Linked DNA regions of Homo sapiens: region 1 is linked to region 2. Evidence: fine-mapped expression QTL. A gene starts in region 2. The other region holds a variant in brackets. All regions are shown on one strand. Distances are from middle to middle.

Region 1 (10,489 bases), 100 kb before region 2:
GTGTGTGCTGGGCCGATTCCCAGGGAAGAAAAGTAGTCACTGATTCTTCTGTGGCATACCTGACCACAAATTGCCCAAGACTTCCCCTTGGTTATAGACAGAGCTTGAATCCCCTATCAAAAAATTGGACCAGAGCTTCTAATAACGTGATCGTATCCCAATACAATGGAAAGTTGAATTTTTATTGTTACCTCCTTAATTCCTCTTATTATATCTCTGTCATTAGTGTCAGGAGATTTTTTCAGGTAACATACTTATATTCTTTCTTAAGGTACAGTATAACTTTTTAAGTTTTCTTCTTTTTCTATTCATGAATCTTGGTTGAATGTTATTTTATATTTGTAGGGCTATGTGGGTTTTCTTCTCTCCTAACTTACAGATGCTCTCAGATCATTGTTTAACTTTGATAGCTTAACATTCTCTTTCTATATTCAAAAAATCAGTGACCTTGCCCTCTATCTGCCGGCTTAAGCTTTCATACACTGATCCAAAGCTTGTTGGAACATGGATATTTTAAACTATTACTCTCCCATATATCTACTTTTTAAGGGATTTTTAAACTTTCATCACTTTTAAATAAGTTTTGAATAACAAATACATGCATATGGTGCAAATCCCAAGCAGTAAAAATAAGTAAATACATTTAAAAAACTCAAAAAGTGAAAAGTTGTCCTTCTATTCTAATCACAGCCATTCGATTTCCTTCCCCAGGGCAATAACTACCACCAACTTGTATTTATTTTCCAAAGACATTCTAAGCATTTACACAATACAAATAATAACATACTTTATACACTCATCAACACTCAACTTTTTTCATTTAGCATTATTTTGGAGGTAGTTCATATCAGTACATGTAAAAATGCCCAATTCAATGTATGGATGAGCCATAATTTGTTGACGGACATCTAGATGGTTTCAAAGTTTTTGCTATTACAAACATTGCTCTAATGCCTATTTTTGTAAAGGTCTTTTTGTATATATGGGAGTATATCTGTAGGTTAAATCCCTTGAATGGAAATTGCTGGGTCAAAGGGTGGGTATATTTTTAATTTTGATAGAAATTACCAAATTGTCTCTATTGCAATCAAAATAATTATTAATCCCATCAACAATGTATGAGGGTGCCCATTTCCCCACACTCTTGCAACAGAATGTGTTATTTTTATCTTTCTTTATCTGATACATATTGTAGTTGTACATATTCTAGATTTAGTTTGCACATTTATGAGACTGAACACATTTCATATGTTTAAGAGAAATAGCTATTTCCTTTTTAAGTGAATTATCTATATTTATCCATTGTCTAATTTGTAATTGGGTTCTTGGCCTTAGTTTTATTGATATGTAGGGGTCCTTTATATATTAAGGAAACTGGCCGTTTGTCTGTAGGGCGTGTTGCTATTTTTTCCAGTTTGTCTTTGATTTCCTGATAATGATTTTTTGTGATACAATTTTTTTAGATTATATAGTCAAATTGATCAATCTTTGCTTTTATGGCTTCTGGGTTATATGGCATCTTAGATCTTTCCCACCCTGAAATTATAAAAAAATTGCCCACGTTTTATTCTAGTATTTTTATGGTTCTGGTACTTCAGATTCAAATATTTAATCCATTTGGTATATGGCATGAGATTTAATTTTCTAAATATACTTTAAAAATCATTATCTTTCCCTCATTATGTAAATATAGCTGCACATTATAAAAATTTTAGAGGTACCAAAAAACTAAAAGAAAGAAAAATTATCTCTCATGTTATCACCTAGAAATAACTACTGTTAACTTTTTTGTAATTCCTTTTTCTTTTTTTCTATATATAGAAACTGCTTTTTTCTTACAAAACTAGGGTCATGTTTATATATAGGGTCATATTATATATATAGTTTAGTATTCTGTCCTTTTTTCAACTTAATATTGTATCATGAGAAGATTTCCCATGTCAAATGTGCTCACTCTTGAAATAGAAACACTTGTTGTCTATCTGGGCCTGTCCATCTGCATCTGCAGTTGATCCTTGAAGAACAGGGGTTTGAACGGCAAAAGTCCACTTACATGTGGCTTTTTTGTTCAATCAAATGAGGAACAAAAGTATTTCTGGGATGCAAAACTGCCTTTGAGGAGGACCAACTTTTCCTATATGGTGGTTCCACAGGGCCAACTGTGGGACTTGAGTATGCAAGGATTTGGGTATATGTAGGTGTCCTGGAATCAATCCCTCATGGGTACTAAGGGACAACTGTATTTTAAGGCTTAGTTTGAAAGCTCTGGAGGGATAGAAACTGTGTCTGTGCAAATGGTTACGACTAGCGTTTGGGCATTCCCGTTTTTTGGTGGGCACCCAGTAAATGCTTACTGATAATGTCATGCTTTCCCTTCCATCATTCTAATCTGTGATTAGAAGTTAAGTACAGAGATACTTAATTTGGGACCAGATTCCATTCTTTATATAATGCTCCAAGAATAAATCACAGTGTTGCATGTCAGGTAAATATTCAATAAAATTTTGATCTAATACCATCTTTACACTGAACTATACCAAATCATTATTTTCTGTGAACAATTTTACCATTAAGTTTATACCTCATTTAATTAGGTAATCATGTAATAATTAAACAGACAATGCAAACAGACTATGATGGGAAAAGATTTGATTTCCAATGAGGGATTAATGCAAGCCTTCATGGAACAAGTGACATTTGATATGGGACTGGATGGAATTTGACAGAAATAGATATGGGAAAGGCAAGACATTTCTGGCAGAGGGGATCAAATGTGCTAGAATCCAGAAGTGAGTATATACCAGACATTTTCAGTAGATTGTCAGTAGTCCAGTTTGGCTGGTGCAGAGGTTACATGAGTGAGAATAGGGAGAGGCTAGGTTTACAAATTAGCTTTGTAAATGCAAAGTTTAACCAAGGCTTTGAAAGACAGACTAAGGAGTTGATACTTAAAAAAATTTTTCTTTTTCTTTATAATTTTATTTCCTCTTTAGCCTTTCTGTCTTGAGAAGTTGATACATTTTTGGGCATTAGAGTGATTAAAGGTTTTCACTTTTTTACTATGGAAAATGTTGAACATATACAAAAGTAACAGAACAATATGACAACTCCTCATGCAGCCATCACCCTGCTGCAGCAATTGTCATCTTATGACCACTCTCATTTAATCTCATGCCCCATTTACCCCTTATTATGTGGAAGCAAATCCTAGGCATCCTATTGTTTCATACATGTGTCCCTGAAACATAAAGATTTTTTACAAAAATAACCACAAAACCATGATCACACAAAAGAGCTGACAATATTTCCTTAATATCATTTAAGGGTTTTGAAGAAGATGTGCCATGAGCAGTACAGTGCTCATCTAAGTTAATCAAATTAACTTCATGTTGCATAGACAACTATCTAAATGTAGCTAACATAAACGAGCTATTTTTTTTATGAGTGGTGAATGCTATTAGTCACTTCACTGACACAAAGCCATTTAGGGATTTTTTTTTTTAAAAGCATGCAATTACGTCAGAAGCAGAGCTTGGAAATGATGTTTCTCGGAAAGAAAAATGTCATAGTCAATTTTAATTAAAATAAAACAGACAAAATATTTTCTCAACCTTTTAAAATCTTTCATAGAAATAACAGGAGTCCATTTTCTTCAACAGGGTACCTTTAGCTGGAACTAGCCAACAAAAAGAGAGTTTTTTTTTTAAGACTAAGGTCAAAGATAGATAATTAAAGGAAAGGAAGGAAATAAATAGCTCAGTATTGCAATAAATTGTGTCCTTCTAAAGAAACTGCATTACATTAGAATAGATTATTATCTGGGGGATGGTTGGAAAAATCCTGCTATCGTGGTGGAAATGCAATTACGTTCTGTTGGATGTTGATGAAGAGAAGGCCATTGAAACTCCAAAGCCTCCTTATTCCCCTGGGCGCCTTCATCCTTGTGACATTAGCCACCTGGAGCCCTGTTTGTTCAGTTGCCCATCTGATAGAATATCCAATCTCCTCATTTCCTGTGCTGTGGAAAATTATTTTATTCAGCAAGTGACTGAACTCTTCTTTGGAATGGAAATCGCTGATGTATTTGAGACAATGTATTTGGCACAAAGCAGACCTTGCCCAAAACCCACTGATTTTTTTTTAAAAAGGAAGACAATAGAAGGTATGATTCTGTTTGGTAAAGCAGAGATTATTTAAGAAGGTAAGTAGTTTCTTTATTTTATTTGAATTTCTGAAGATTTACTCTAACAAGGTGGAAGAGGAAAGAAAGCATCCATAGGAACAGCTGTTTCTACTGCTAAATTTTAGTTGTAATTCAGTCCCTCTGTGAGGTCACAAAGCCTTTCAAATCTAGAAGGACAATTGTAAGTTGCAGTGAGAGGCTGATGTATGTGCTGAATGACTTTGCATTCAAGATGGATAGAAAATGGGATATACACACTTAAAAAAAAACTTGCACTTTCTTTGAAATACAGTAGTCCCAATGAGAAATAGAGGCTTTTGGGCGTAGGAGGCAGAACTTGGCATATATTTTATCTTCACTCATTTTCCTGTCCTAACAGGCCTTGCCTTTGCTCTTTGGGTTAATGGCTTGTTCTCTATTGTTCTGTTGTTAACTACATTAAAGTTATGCAAACCTAGTTCCCCTAGATCATAAAGCTCACTTGTCCTTCTGCACAGCATGGAGATAGAGCAAAGGTTTCAACAGATTAGATTATAGTAGATGTGAACTGTGGTACCATCCCCATTATCTGTAGTTTAGACTGCCAGTAATCTTAGGTGGCCTTTCTGGAAGATGTCCAGAACCTGGAAGGAAACAAAGAAGGCCTTTAAGAGGTCAAAATAACTATCATCAAGACCATGGACTTTATCCTGTGGGAGAAGCATCAGGAGAGGCAGTCAGGTCCTAACTTTAATCAGTAACCTTATTTTGTACACAATTCTAATAGACTTCATTATCTGGCTTGCTGGCCCACAGCAAATTAGATGAGAGGCTATTAACAGCAGGTCCACTGAGAATCAGGAGAAATAACAGCCAAAATCTTGAATGCAGGGGTGGAGTAGAATTTTAAAAGACATATGCAAAAACTGGGAAAAGCTCAG[C/T]AGTCAGAGGCTATTGAGCAAAAGACAAACAATCATATGGGCCACAACAGCCTTGAGTATTATCTCCACCTGTTAGATAGGGACTCTCTTGCCTCCCTGTATGTATTCTTAGTACTTAGAACATAAAGTGGTATAAAGGAGACACAGCTTTTTTCTTCCTGGAAGCCAGACATTAAAACAGGATCCCAGTATAATCCAATAGTGCTTATAATGCTAGACCCAAGTCATCAAGCTATAATTAGATTATATTCACTTTACTCTGATTAAGAAGGCAGGAAAAAAAACCCATCCTGGAAATGTGATTGAAAACACTTGGGTAAACACCTAGTAGTGGGATTGCTGGAATGTACGGCAAGTTTATGTTTAACTTTATAAGAAAATGCTAAACTGATTTTCAAAGTGGCTGTACCATTTTGAATTTCTAGTATCAATATTTGAGAGTTCCTGTAGTTCTGTACTCTTGCCACCACTTGGTATTTTCAGTTTAAATTTTTTTTATATTCTAATAGGTGCACAGTGGTATATCATCTTGGTTTTAATTTGCGTTTCCTTAACAACTAATTATATCGAGCATCTTTTCATGGGCTTATTTGCCATCAGTTTATCTTCTTCGATGAAATGTCTGTTGAAATATTTCAACTTTTTTTTTTTTTTGACGGAGTCTTGTTCTGTCGCCAGGCTGGAGTGCAGTGGAGTGATCTCGGCTCACTGCAACCTCTGCCTCCCAGGTTCAAGCAATTCTCCTGCCTCAGCCTCCCGAGTAGCTGGGACTACAGACGAGCACCACCACGCCCAGCTAATTTTTGTACTTTTAGTAGAGACAGGGTTTCACCATGTTGGCCAGAATGGTCTCGACCCTTGACCTCGTGATCCACCTGCCTCGGCCTCCCAAAGTGCTGGGATTACAGGCATGAGCCACCGCGCTCAGCCAGTATTTTGACTTTAAAAAAAAATTGGAATATTTATTTTCGTATTATTGAGTTTTCCGAGTTCTTTATATATTCTGGGTATAAGCCTTTTATCAGATAAGTATTTACCCACCCAAGTGAAACGAAAACTTATGTTTGTACAAAACCCTGTATGCCAATGTTTATAGCAGCTTTATTCATAACTGCTAAAAACTGGAAGCCACCCAAACGTCTTACAACTGGTGAATGGTTAAAAGTTATAGAACATCTATAAAGTAGAATCCTACTCAGCAATAAAAATGAACAAACACCTGATTCACATGACAAAATGGATGAAACTCAAATGCTGTATGCTAAGTGAAAGAAGCTACGTACTGTATAATTCCATTTATGTGAAAATAGATCAGTGGTTGCCAGGAGCTGCAGGGTGGGGACAAAGGGGCAGCATGAGAGAATTGGAACAGTTTTCTATCTTGATTTTGTTGGAGGTTTGTCAACACTCATAGAACTAATTTAATAAAAGATGAATTTTACTGTATGTAAATGATACGTCAATTTTTTTTTTTTTTTTTTACAAAAGGCAAAAATAACAGTTGAGGGTATTGAAAGGAAGTAAGCTTTAAGAATGTGGAAAATGTACTGCTGTGGCTGCATATTGGGGGCTTTCAGTAAGCTGGAACATTAGGTTAGGCATTAGAATTTCATAAAAAGTTTAATCCTGTTTTTAGGGGGCAGAAATAGAAAATTGTAATCACTTGGATTTTAACTTTCAGAAAATTATGAATGCAGCAGTATCAGGCTTTTGCTTGGCAGTGAATAACTCATGTGATGGACAGACAGAGTCTTGGTGGAAGGAGGGGGGAGAGAAAACAAATTATGGATGAATGATCGCCAGCTTCTCCAGCTTTTTCTTATTTTACACACACACACACACACGTGCACACACATACACACAGACACATACACACACAGACACACATATACATACCCACACTTACACACATACACACATGTGCACACACATACTCACATACATATGCGCACACACAGACACACACATACACACATACACATACACATATGCTCACACATACAGACACATGCACACACATACGCACACGTACATACACATACATGCACACATACACACCCCCCATATACACACATACACATACACGCATGTACACACATATACACACACATACACAGGTACACACACATGTAAACACACACAAACACATACATACACTTCAACTTTTTCCTTTCTTCCTCCTTCTCCTTATCCATATACCAGTCTATCAGTCCATCTTTCACATTGGAGCTAAATCTCTTTGTGATCCAGGCACACCAGCAGTACCTCAGCCTCACAGTTTAACTTATTTCCTATGTACATTCCTACCTGTGTGAATTTGCTCACATTGGTCCCTTTGCCAGATATAACCTCTCCTCTCTAACTCCTTTAACCTCTGATAGGCAGACTTGAAACTTTCAAGGTCCAACTCAAGATCCGCCTCTTCCATGAAGCCTTCTTTGATCACCCCAGTCAACTTTGATCACCCAGTGTCACCCCAGGGCATTGAATTTTCCCTCCTTGTATTTGTGGAAAAACAGGTAGAGAAAATTGACTTGACTCTAAAGGCGGCAAGTAGAACAAAATATCAAACATATGCACATTATAGAAGCTAGATTAATGTTGGCTGATGGGCCTGCACCATTAGCTTTGGTTGAGGCAGTATCATTGTAGTGGTTAAGAGCATGGAGGAGGCCGGGCATGGTGGCTCATGCCTGTAATCCCAGCACTTTGGGAGGCTGAGTTGGGTGGATCATGAGGTCAGGAGATGGAGACCATCCTGGCCAACATGGTGAAACCCTGTCTCTACTAAAAATACAAAAATTAGCTGGGCGCGATGGCATGTGCCTGTAATCCCAGCTACTCGGTAGGCTGAGGCAGGAGAATCACTTGAACCAGGGAGTCGGTGGTTGCAGTGAGCTGAGATCGTGCCACTGCACTCCAGCCTGGTGACAGAGCGAGACTCCGAAAAAAAGAAAAAACAAAACATGGAGATGGAGGAGGCACATGCCTAGGTTTCAATACCAGCTCTGCTGTGTACTGGCCGTGTGATATGGACAAATTACTTAACCTCTAAGTCTCAGTTTCCTCATCTATAAAATGGGGATACTAATAACATCTACCTGGGGTTATTGTGAGGAGTAAATAAATTACTTTATATAAAGTGCCTGGCACATATGGAGCTCCATGTAAGTGTTAGCTGCCATTATTTTGGAAGCATAGAATTAGTTGAAAGTAATTCTAATCAGATGGGGTAAACATATTGCAAAGGATACATTGGTTTCAAGGGAAATATTACCATTAGGAGAGGCAGAAATGTAAGATAGTATTCACATTCATCTCGTTCAGGCATGTCAGAAAGATCAACAACACTTGTTCCATTATGGATTCTAAAGTAACTCTGTGAAAATATAGAATTCCAACCTTCATAATGAGACTTTAAAGGGGGCTGCGTAGGCGAGGGCAGGGGGAGATGGGGAGGGAGAGTCAGCTGCTGTATGGACTTCTCTGAAGAGAGCCCTTATAGCTGGCCTGTCCCACGAGCAGCCTTTTGATATTCTAGGCAGCTGCCTGACACTGCACTTTGGTGCTCCACAGTGTAATTAACGGGCATGCACACAGCTGCCTTGTCAAACAATTGACCAGACTTGGCAGTGTATGCTACAGAGGCGGGGTGGTAGCAGGGAGCACCTAGAATACATTTACCACCTTGGGCACTGGGCTTTCCCAACAGCTCTGTAATAACACTGCAGCTGCACCCTGAGCACTTCTCAAAACAGTGTTCCTGCTAACTTCTTAGAGGGGACTATCCAAATTCCTCGATTCAGAATGCGTTTCCATTTTCTACCTTACACAACAACAATATCACTAGCTTGACCTCCTCCTTGATGCTATCAGAGTCAACTGTGACTGGCCCATTAGTTTTTTTTGTTTCTCCTCTAAACCACACAAATACTTTTTCATCTCTATTACCATTAGCCAGATAAATCTTGTTCAGGGAAGGAAGTGTAAGAGGAAGTGTGATGTCAGGAAAAAAACACGGGACTGGGAATCAGAAGACTGCATTTTTTGTTATGGCTCATTAGTTTTATGACCTTGAGAAAGTCGTTCGTTCACTCTGGACCTTTGGGTGTTGTGTACAAGTGAGATGGTTAGGTTGGAGAGGAACTTTCTGGGATATTTGTGGCTTTGAGGATTTAATACTCATAAGCCATTGCAGGGGCTTATGATCTTTGGATCTTTGATGTCATGGAGCCCTGTATAAGAATTTCAGAACCGTCCCTACCCTGAAACTTTGCTTGTTGACAAACAACTGACTCTTAATCAGAATAGCATCCCTGTCACTGAAACTTCCAGCCTACCGTGTTTTTCAGCCTTTCTTGAGGGTGCTGAGTAATTTTAACATGGGGTTGTATTTGGAATGCTACAGCGGCTTTTGGTACAAAGCTCCAGAATGACAAGACAGACCTGAGGATCAATTATAAGCCCAGCTTTGCCATTCCATATATAGGGTGTGTGCCCACCCTGTACTTGCTCATCTAGGTTATGTTTTCCACATTTTATCTGTGTCAGACATCAGGCTCCTAATTTGAGAAATATACTGTTGGTTTTAGCTGAAGTCATTTAGCTCATTTCCTTGTTGGAGAAATGTTGTCTTACACATACAGACTTCCTCTAGAGATGGAGGGGATGGCCCTGGCAATCCTACTGTATGCCTTCTGCACGTTTTTATCCATTTGAAATCAGGTTGAGGAGAACACCAGGGACGGCTCAGAGGGAGTTGAGAATGCCTAAAAAGGATATCAACAGCCTCAGGGTGTGTGTGGTCAGAAGGTTGAGACTCAATAGCCCACAGTACTGCTGGTTTTGCCTGAGGAGTGAGCAATATTTATGGATAACAGCCAGTTGTGTGCACCTCTTCCTGACTATGCATTCACTAATGTGTAGTTGGTACCTTGACATGGGCCATGGTGGAAATATTTTCAGTATAGAAATCAGCAAACACTACAAATCAGATATGTTTTAAAAAAATCTCTTTCTTTCTCTTGTTCAATTGGATAATTTCTTTTCATTCATCTTTCAGTTCAATGGCTCTTTCCTCTGTCATCTCCAATCTGCTATTGATCCCTTCGAGTGAGTTTCAAATTTTTGTTATTGTGTTTTCCATTTCTAAATTTTACATTTGGGCTGGGTGTGGTGGCTCACGCCTGTGAGGCACTTTGGGAGGCCAAGGCAGGCGGATCACTTGAGGTCAGGGGTTCGAGACCATCCTGGCCAACATGGTGAAACACCGTCTCTACTAAAAATACGAAAAAATTAGCTGGACCTGGTGGTGCGTGCCTGGGGAGGCTGAGGCAGGAGAATTTCTTGAGGCTGGGAAGTGAAGGTTGCAGTGAGCCACTGTGAG
Region 2 (10,489 bases):
ATTGATGGATTCTTAGATTGCTTCCACGTTTTGACTACTATGAATAATGCTGAAATAAACACTGGAGTGCAGATATCTCTTTAACATACTGATTTCAATTCCTTTGAATATATACCCAGAGAGGGGAAAGGAATCTGAGCAGGCATTTCTCAAAAGAAGAGATACAAATCCCCAACAAATATATTAAAAAATGTTGAAAATCTCTAATCATCAGGGGAAATGCAAATTAAAACCACAGTGAAATATCACCTCACAGCTGTTAGAATGGCTATTGTCAAAAGGATGAATAACAGGTATTGACGTGGATGTGGAGACTGTTGGTGGCAATATAAACTGGTGCTCTCACTATGGAAAGAAGTATGGAGGTTCCTCAAAAAGCTGAATTGCTTTTGAATATTTGTTGAAAATAACTTGCCCATATACGTTGTGGGTCTGTTTATGGACTCTATTCTGTTTCATTGATCAATACCACACTGTCTTGAATATTGTAGCTTTACAGTAAAAATTGAAATCAGGTAGTATTATCCCCCTAATGCTCTTTGTAAAAGTTGTTTTGGCTATTTTATTCAATTTCCATATGAACTTTAGAATCAGCTTGTCAATTTCTACAGAAAAAGCCAGCTAGGACTTTGATCGGGGTTGTGCTGTAACTATAAATCAATTAGGAGTGAATTGACATCTTAATGATATCAATTCTTCTGCCCTATGAATACAGTATATTTCTACATTTATTTAAGCCTAAAGTTTTCAGGACAGGTCTTACACATCTTTAATCAGATTTATCTCTAACTTCTAAAGCAAGACCCTTCTGTGTATGCTACCCAAAGCCCTGTGAGGGTTTTTTTTTTTATAATAGATTCCATTCAATAATAGGCTCCATTCAATAATTGATGAGATGAGTGTTTTGAGGAAATGCAAATTTACCAGAGAGACAAAATGTATCCTAAATAGTTTTCAATTTGTTTTTTAGTCAGAATTAATGCAGTTGAAATCTTTTAGTTTCACATTAGGCACACAGCAAGCTTGCAAATGCTTTTAGACCGATTAGGGATCAGCTACCAGCTCTGTGTACTTTGGTGTGTGTGTGTGTGTGTGTGTGTGTGTGTGTATGTATGTTATGTGTGTGCCCACATCTGCCTGTATGGTCTCTTAGTTAATTTTTATAATTGTATAATTAATTGGTGCTGTCAAATCTTTGGGGCATGGTAGGGAGAATTCTAAGATGGTCCTAAGATTCTTGTCTTCTGTTATACATTCTCCACTTAGGTATGGTTGGGACCTGTGAATATGCTGGGCTATCACTCTTGTGATTAGGTTACATTATGTGGCAAAGGTGAAGAGATTTTGCAGATGTAATCAAGGCACACAGTTAATTTTTGAGTTAATCAAAGGGGTGATAATCTTGGGTGGGCCTGACTTAATCTGGTAAAAGACCTTAAAAGAGGCACTGGACCCCTCCTGAGGAGAAAGAAGTTTTTCTGTTGGCCTTGGCTAAGTAGAACAACCATGTTGTCAACTGCTAATGGAGAGGGGCTGCCTCTAGATCCAGTAAATGCTACGGGTCTTAATTCTGTAACTGCAAGGAACTGAATTTGGCCAACAATCTGAATGAGTTTGGAAGAAGATTCTGAGTTGCACATGAGAACACAGCCCAGCCAAAAACTTGATTGCAGCCTTGTGAGACCCTGAGCAGTGCTCCAAGCTAAACCATACCTGGACTCCTGACACGTGGAAACAGATAATTAATGTGTGTGTTTTTAGCAATGAACAATAACTAAGTCAGCGGATACTCTAGCTGGCATTTGAAATGCTTCCCATTATGTTCGTTTGCTAGACCTGCCATAACAAAGTATAACACCATAGACTGGGTAACTTAAACAACAGAAATTTATTTTCTTGTAATTCTGGAAGATCAAGGTGTAGGTAAGTTTGGTTTCTTCTGAAGCCCCATCTTGTCTTGCAAGTGGTTGCCTTCTCACTGCATCCTCACATGGTCCTTCCTCTATGTGCATATATGTCTAAGTCCTAAACTCTTCTTAAAAGGACACCAGTCATATTGGATTCGGGCCCATCTTAGAGACATTACTTTAACTGAATTACCTCTTTAAAGACCTTTTCTCCAAATGCAACATACTCTCCCATGTGTTATCTTATTTGAAACCCAAAACAATGCTGTGGGGCATATCAGACCAGTATTATTTTGCTCCCCACTGGAAATTTGGGAAAACACTCTCAGAGCACTAACTTAATGTCACATAGCACATAAATTGTCTTCTGACTCTGAGTCTAGTGCTCTATCCAGTAGATTAAGTATTCAGATAAAGCATCCGAACCCAAACAGCAATGGACTTCTATTGGATAAGCATATTTGTAATATCTTATTGCCAGTTCTTTTTCTTTTTTCTTTTTTTTTAAACTGAGAATCTGTGCAAGCTACTGGCAGTTCAAATGCAGATCCTGCAGTTGCCCCCATCTCAACACCCTTGCTATGAGGGTTTTCTCTTTGTGTAGATAAGGGCTGCTTGGCCCACACTGGATTATCCCATTTTTACTGGCATTTCTGTGGGAGAAACTTATTATAAAGTAACCCCACTTGAACCTTTTTATGGCAGGACAAAGCAGTGACTCGAGTGTACACCAGCTCAGTTTGTACTTATTTTTTTTTTAACCTGTGTGCCAGGTTTTTGATACATGCTAAAAGTGATTGTTTGGAATATATCACCTCAGTGAGATTGTAAACTTCTGTACAAGGTGCTTTCTACCCAATAAGCATTTAGTGTGTAAGGTAGGTATACAATAATTATTGAATAAGCATAGTGGAGAAGCCAGTGGAAGCATTCCTGTTAACAAAGGGGAATTGGGTTCAATACACTTGCACGTAAAAGGTAATAATGCAAATTCTATGTATATTTGGAGTTCTTTGATTATTTGGTAAAGTCCAACAATGTGGTATTATCTTTAGTTCTAGCAAGTTTTTGAGTAGCTGATTATTCTCAAATTTACCTAAAACCTACTACTAGAATTTCAGTGTATGTAAGTTGAAATACAAAGTCAGCAATGTTGAAGATCTCAGATCCCAGAGGGAGAAATCCTAGAAAACATAAAGATTCCACACTCACCGCATCACTTCCTTAAGAAGAAGAAGAAGAAAAAAACAGCCAAAGAAAAAAAATCACAATAGTGATTAAACTGGTTGCTAAGAGCAAACTCCCTTTATTTTCCCAAGGAGGAGTCTGGAATTATAAGTAGAAAGGGCAAAGGAATAGGTGTAAGAAGGTGGCCCCAGGCTGTAACCGTCAAGAAGGCAAAGAATGAATAGAAGACAAGCAAGGGGAAAAACAGGCTTGACTGGGGTTTTTTTTGGGGGCTAGGCTGATAGAGCAGAATCAAGATTCTGACTTAGAAGAGCAGTCCCACCAGAGTTTGGAAGCAGTTTGCATAGTGGTTAAGAGCCTGGGTACCAGAATCACACCGCTTGGGATCCTGAGTCCCGCTCTGCCACTTACTATTTATGTAACCTCTGGCAACTTGGTTAACCTATACACCTCAGTTTTGTCACTTGTAAAATGGAGACAATAGTGTGTAACTTGTAGAGTAGCTGTGAATTAGGTAAGTTGATGCTTCAGTGCTTGGTTCATAGCAGACGCTCAGTAAAATGTTAAACTGTTATTTGTAGTTTTTATCCTTCCTCTTTCTTAATGTTGTGTACTGCAGCAGGGAGGGGGAGGGATGAAGCGCTTATCCCACTAGAAGAGTGATATTTGTGTGAGAGCCTGGGTCAGGCTTATTTTGAGACGTGGGCCCCACTGAGGTGAGGTGGCACCGCTTCCAGGGCACACCCTTTGCTCGGGCCCCGCCGTGACTATGAGGAGGCCGAGGCCACGGCTGGCAGAATGCACGGGTGGACCTCCTTGGAGTGGCTAACCCGGGGCGGCTGCACTGTTGTCCCTGGATACTTGACACTTTTCACTTTTTCTGCCTCCCGGCACTAGAATCCATGTGGGCTCACACCAGAGCCTCCCGGTTTCCGAGGCGTGAGGGCCACTTAGCGGTCATTCAGCTTCAGGGTCCGGCCCTGTCACGCTTTCGCTACAGCCTGGGAGTTCCGTTCGGACCCCACACACCGTCCTAGCCCCGGCTCCCCGCCACCCTGCCTCCCGCGCAGGCGCCGCCGGGGCCACCCCCGCCGCCATGTTTCCCCCGCCCGCGCGCTCCCCCCCCCACTGCCCCCTCCCTCCCCAACTGGGTTCCCGCCCCCCTCCCTCAGCAGCCCCCCCACACCCTGGTGAGGTCAGGCGGAGGCTCTGCCGCTGCGGCCGCAGTAGCTCAGCTCCTATTCCTGGGAAGCCTGGAACGGGGACTTTTGAAAATAACTGCAGCGGCATTCGGGTTAGGGTCCGTGCTCTCCGCCTGCGCCAGGACAGGGTGAAGTGGTCGGGGCGAGCAGAGGGTGCGAAGGTGCGGGTGCTGGTGCCTCGCAGCAGGAGGGAGCCCCGGCTGCGCCGCGCGACTCCCTCTTTGGCCCTCGGAGCGCAGCACCCGGCGGACAAGCGGCGGGACGCCAGGACGCGGCGAGCAAGGTGAGGCAGGGTCCTGAAGTCACAGGGGCTCCAGCAGCCGCTTCCCTGCCTTCGGACCCGGCGCTGCGCGGTGCGCGGCGAGGAGTTGCGATCTGTACCAGGGGCAGAGGAGCAGAGGAGCAGGGAAACAGCTTCATTTTGCCCGCCGCCCCCTCTTTTTCTCCCGCGTGCTGGTGCGCGCCCTCATCCTTACACCTTCGCATCCCTTTCTGCCGGTCCCTCTGGCTCCGTCGGACGCCTGGGTTCTTCTAGGACCCCAGAACCCGGCTTTCCTGTGCTTCTTTGTCATCTCTCCAAGATCTTCTCCTCTGGGCCTCGCTGTTGCTGCCCTGACGGTCTGGGGTCCCGCTGCCCGCCCCGGCCCTACTGTCTCTTGCCCTCTAACAGTTTCTGCTTTGTGCCTCCTAATCCATCTCTCCTTCAGAATCTTCTAACTTAGGAGGCTCCTCTGCTGGCTCCCAAGTCAGGAGCACACTCCTCTTCTTCCTCGAAGCTTTTAACTTAGCTCTGAATGTCTTCAGCTCTGAATATTTTGACTTTTTTGTTTGTTTGTTTGTTTAATTACAGTTGACTAATGATTTTCTTGGAGGCTTATAGTCTAGGCTACAGTTTACTGAAAGTGATGAGATCATTCCTTCACTAAATAGCCTTAGTAAATATCAACTAGGGAACTTTAAAGTTTCTTTCTAGGTTTCATTAACTTAGTCCAAGAACAATAGCCACTTAAAATGTATGTATATATGTTGGTACGCAATCTTCGTACATGGTCCTAAATCTGATTCTTCCCTGGCTGCTGAGCAGGCCTGAGAGAGAGGATTGGTGGGAATTGTGATGCCTGGCTCCATTTCTCTAATTGTAAACTAGGATGTTAATCGTTTTAATGTAGTCAGAGGACTTTAGTGGTTTGGGATAAAGTCGCTCAAGTTAGCATAGGCTGGTAACTAAGCACATTGAATGGAGACTAAGAGACGCTGGGATTTAAAACTGTCTCTGGAGGGCACCTGCTTTCTTTTTTTTGAAGCCACAGTTTCTTAACAGTAGATTTCATGTTTGTATAAACCCTCTAAAAGCAGCATATTTTAAAACCACGTAGTTACAAAAAAGACTACTCACTCTTAGCGATATCGCTTTCTCCCCATGTAGTTGTGGTGTTAGCTCCCATACTGAGGTTCATTTGCTCACTTTCATACTGCAATTAGTGTGTGAAGAAAGCTGAATGGAGAAGCACAAAGTGGAGGCAAATACCAGTGAACAAGCACATGCTGACATACGCAGCTGTGTTTTTGGAAATAGACTGTATCTAGTGTTCAAATTTAAAAACTGAGAAAAATGAAATAATTCAGCATTTATGACATCATTTTACATCTAAAAATATTAGCTCCCTTAACTGCAAGTTCTTATTAATATCCTCATACTTAACGGTAAAAGAGTTGTTTGCCTGATGTATGACCAAGTGTTGCCATTGACACAGTGTGCACTAATTGGCAGCAATCTCAGAAGAAACCAGGTTGTGAATGAAGATAATGGCTAAATTTCACTGTCCTGGTAGCACGTCTTATGGCAGTGAGATGAGAGTAGTTTCTGCTGCAACATCAAATGATGTATTTAAAAAACAGATAAATAAGAGCTTCAATTATTAAAAAGCCCAAGGTTTTCAATCTGCCATTTTTATAAGCACACTTCAAAAAGTGTAGTGTGATTATATAAGGCTCAGTTGATGTTCTGAAGAAAGTAGTTTTCACAAGAAAAGTAAGGCCTATTGCTTATCAATTTAGTTAGATAACTTGCAGATGATTTGTAGTTTCCCAATTGATTTGGTAAATTCCTGAGTTTACTTGAGGTTTATTAAAAAATGGAATGTAGTAGGGAAAGGGTACTTATTCTAATAGGCCCACTTTCTAAGTCTGTAATTTTCTTAGCAAACTATTCTCAAAATACATAAAAACTTACAACTTTTTCAAGGAAAAGAGTTTATACTATTTTCTTACTTTTTTCTTTTCATGCTTATTATTGATACAAAATCTAAGCTAAGATTGCTGCTAATGTGATTGCATAGTAAGACTATTTATATTTGCCAGGAAAAGAATAAAGGTGGATGAGTTAGCCATAAGCATTTTGCTCTGAATCTTCAATATGACTCAATATGTGTTTGATAGTCCATCTGGTACACCTAGAGGTTAGCAGACTGGATATTTCTGATATTACTAAATGTAACTGCACTTACTTATTGGATTATCTTCTTTCTCATTTTATGTACATTTCAAATTATGCTTCTTCATGTAATTTGACTTGCAGTAGTGAAATGAGACTGACCAATTTTCAAATTGTTTGATTTTTATTGATGTTTGATAAACCACTAAAACCTCTTGAAAATATTTTTTTCTTAAATCCACTGATTGAAACCGATGTATTTTTATTGCTATGAAATAATACAACAAATTTCCAGGAATTATTTCAGAAAATGTGGAAAGACTGTAGAGAAATGAATAGCCCTAGAGAAAATATCTCAAAATTATAAAAATGGCTTTCTCAAGTTACTGATATTCATAACAATCAGGTTTTTATGTATCATTCATTCATTTACTAATTCATTTTACAAAATCTACTGGGTACTTGTGTGCCAAGGCCCTGTGTTAGGCACAATGATAAACCTTATAAGGCATGATCTTTGCTCTTGTGGAGTATCACAGTGCTTATATTCTACCAGAGAATACAGACAATAAACGAGCAAACAAATGAAGAAGATCCTTATAGACTGTAGTAAGAGCAATGAAAATAAGTAGGGGAATATGATACAGATAGCTAGGAAGGGCCTACTTTAGTGTGGGAAGTCAGAAAAGGCCTTTCAGAGAAGATGATTGAGCAGAGACCTGAAAGAGAAGAGAGAATAGGCCTACCTTGTCAGGATCTGGGAGAACATTCCCGAGATAACATTCTTGCAGAGAGAAGAGTAAGAGCCAAGGCCTTGAGGGGGGAAAAAGAGACTTGGCGTTTTTGAAGAGCAGAAAGCAAGCCAGCATGGCGGATTAAAGAAGATGTTACAGAGCCTAGAAGCAGCTCAATAACCGATAAATAGGACTTGGAGGTCCTGAGAAAGAATTTGGGTTTGATTCTCAGAACAATAGGAAGCCACTGAAGAGTCTTTCCTGGGGAAGGTCATTGGCTTAAAAAAATTATCCAGGGAAATTTAAAAAAAAATGTTTTGCAGAGGATAAATAGAATGTCTACTCATTCAGTCATTTATATTAATACCTGAGAATAAAAAAAACTCTATGATCAGTATGCTAAATAATCATGTAATTCGGTTCCTCTACTCTGTTTAGGTAAGGGGATGGGGGAATGGGAACCCTGAGGTGAGTATGTTAAAAGGCAGTTTACTTTCCACTGTCACATTGTGACTTGTGCTACAAGGTAAGTTGTCACCAACTTTATTAAAAATCAGATCATTGTTCAACTTAAGAATTTATTTTTCAAAGAATGATATCTTATTTTCTCATGGAAATATGTTTCCTTTGGAAGGTTGGAAATTTTATTTTGTATAAAGGAATAACCTAGGTTTTAGAAAGGGCCTTTGGAATTTTAAGAAGGGCTTATCATTTTCTTTTACCTGTTGCCTCTCCAACATTTTCAAATGGCCATACCTTTATTCCTTGAGAGATTAGGGTTACTGTGTTTCCTGAGGCTTAAATGAATTTATTGCCCTAAGCCCTTCCTTGAAAGCAATCCAGCTTTGAGGTCTAGTTGGTCCCAAATAGGAATGCAGATGATTATTGACATTCCATAGGAGTAAATCCTAATATTGTGGGGGAATAACCTGCAAAATAACCTTCATCAGTGCCTGCAGGGTCAACTTGATTTGATCCCAGCCTACTTTCCCATATGTCCTTATTATTCCCTTTCACAAATCTCTATTGGTTTAAACTGATTTTCCCCAGTTTGGAACTTTTGTGCTTAGCATTATTCCTGGCATAGAGTACGTGCACAGTGGGTGCTTGTCAAATGGATGCCATGCCTTTCTTTTTTGTCATTTCAAATTCCAGGTCCTATTACACTATTCCCCATTGAACTAGATCTCCCCCTCTGAAGGTGAACAGCAGTCACACACTTGCCCTGTTGTGTCATAATTATGCTTATTTGATGCCTGGCCATCTCCCCACTTGCCTCTGGCTTCATGAAGGCGACCTAGACCTCATCCGGTTTGCTCATTGTTGTATTCTGAGCACCCAGCACATGGTATGCACTTTATAAATAGTTATTGAATAATGAATAAATACTGTCTTGTGATGTTTCTCCTATTAATTTTTTGATGTTAGATCATTTAATACTGTTTTACTTTTCACGTGTTTGGTGTTCCGAAGTGGTTTCTGAGAGAGGTTGTAGAGCATACTTGTTAAGAGCTCAAGCTCTGGAGCTAGGCCACCTAGGTTTCAATTCCAGCTAGGAGACTTAATAGTTGTGAGACACTGGGTGAGTCAGTAAACCTCCCTGTACCTCAGTTATCTCATATGTAAAAAAGGGGTAATAGAACTTGCCTCTTATGGTACTTGCAAAGATTACATGAATTAGCTAGGCCCACTTTTTCTTTTCTCTTTTTCTTTTTCTTTTTTTTAGACGGAGTCTCGCTCTCTCACTCTATCGTTCAGGCTGGAGTGCAGTGGCATGATCCCGGCTCACTGCAACCTCCGCCTCCTGGGTTCAAGCGGTTCTCCTACCTCAGCCTCCCGAGTAGCTGGGACTACAGGTGCGTGCCACCACGCCAGGCTAGTTTTTTGTATTTTTAGTAGAGACAGGGTTTCACCATGTTAGCCAGGATGGTCTCGATCTTCTGACCTCGTGATCCACCTGCCTCGGCCTCCCAAAGTGTTGGGATTACAGGCGTGAGCCACTGCTCCCGGCCTAACTTTTTATTTTTAGTGGAGACAGGGTTTCACCATGTTGGCGAGGCTGGTTTCAAACTCTTGACCTCAGGTGATCCACCCACCTCGGGCTCCCAAAGTGCTGGGATTGCAGGCATGAACCACCTCCCCCGGCCTAGGCCCACAATTTGTTTGCAATTTTTAAATTTCTAAAGCTCTGAAAACTGAAAAAGATTTTATTTGGTAACTTAGATGCCAAAACTCATGTGGTGGCAAAACCTGACTTAAACTGACATAGGGTATTTATAGTCTTTATTCTACTTAATGTTGATCTTTATTTTGTTTTGCTATAGAATTACTAATATGTTTATGGGGTTGCACCATAGACCCTAATGGTGTATTACATAACATATGGTATATAAAGTATATTTCCTGTCTAAAGGTCTGGACATTTCTAAATTCAGAAACACATCTGGCACCAAGATTTTTCGATGAGATTGTACACCTTGCAGTAAACTGCTTAAATCAGGGCCTTGCACATAGTATGTTGTTGCTGTGGGTGGTGGAGATTAGGGAGGTAAATAAACTACTTTATCTTTCCCAATAGCTTGCTCATAATAGTTACCATGTAAATATATACTGATTTACTCATGCAATAACTGTAAATAGAGGACTGGCTGTGTGGTTCTCATGTCATAGGAAAATAGATATGGCAGGGTCATGTAATTGAAATGAGCCAAGACTCGTCTGTTAGTACTCTCATCTGGTACCATTCAGAGCAGTTTAGTTTTTGTTTTTCTGTTGTTATTTAAACCAACCTATGCTTCTTTAGCACAAGAGAGTCTTTTGTGGGGGTGGGGGTAAGAAATTCAGTTAAGAACTTATTTAATGTGATTAGACACTTATTTTTTTGCAGTTGTTGAACATTTATTGAACTGCTAATGTGTATAGAAATCTGTATTAAGAGCAAGAGAAGGCCGGGCATGGTGGCTCACGCCTGTAATACCAGCACTTAAGGAGGCCGAGGCGGGCGGATGATAAGGTTAGGAGATC

Direction of the effects. Positions count from the first base shown, and alleles are read on the strand shown. Sizes are in standard deviations (SD) of each study's normalised expression.
In carriers of allele C in region 1, the expression in esophagus mucosa of the gene that starts at base 4,278 in region 2 tends to be lower than with T alone (small effect, 0.36 SD a copy in GTEx).

What was found. PIP is the estimated chance that this variant, and not a neighbour inherited with it, causes the effect. A credible set is the group of variants that fine-mapping cannot tell apart.
Region 1: its variant is the best candidate, but not a certain one, in a credible set for the expression of KLHL13 in esophagus mucosa (GTEx, PIP 0.69).

Annotation. Positions count from the first base shown.
Region 1 is chrX:118,214,913-118,225,401 of GRCh38, reverse strand. No RefSeq gene overlaps it. Among named protein-coding and RNA genes, the nearest start is that of KLHL13, 100 kb to the right of the region's middle. The variant C/T (reference allele first, on the strand shown) is at 5,104.
Region 2 is chrX:118,110,599-118,121,087 of GRCh38, reverse strand. KLHL13 (kelch like family member 13) reads left to right here and starts at 4,278. Exons shown (of 8, transcript NM_001168302.2): 1 at 4,278-4,580.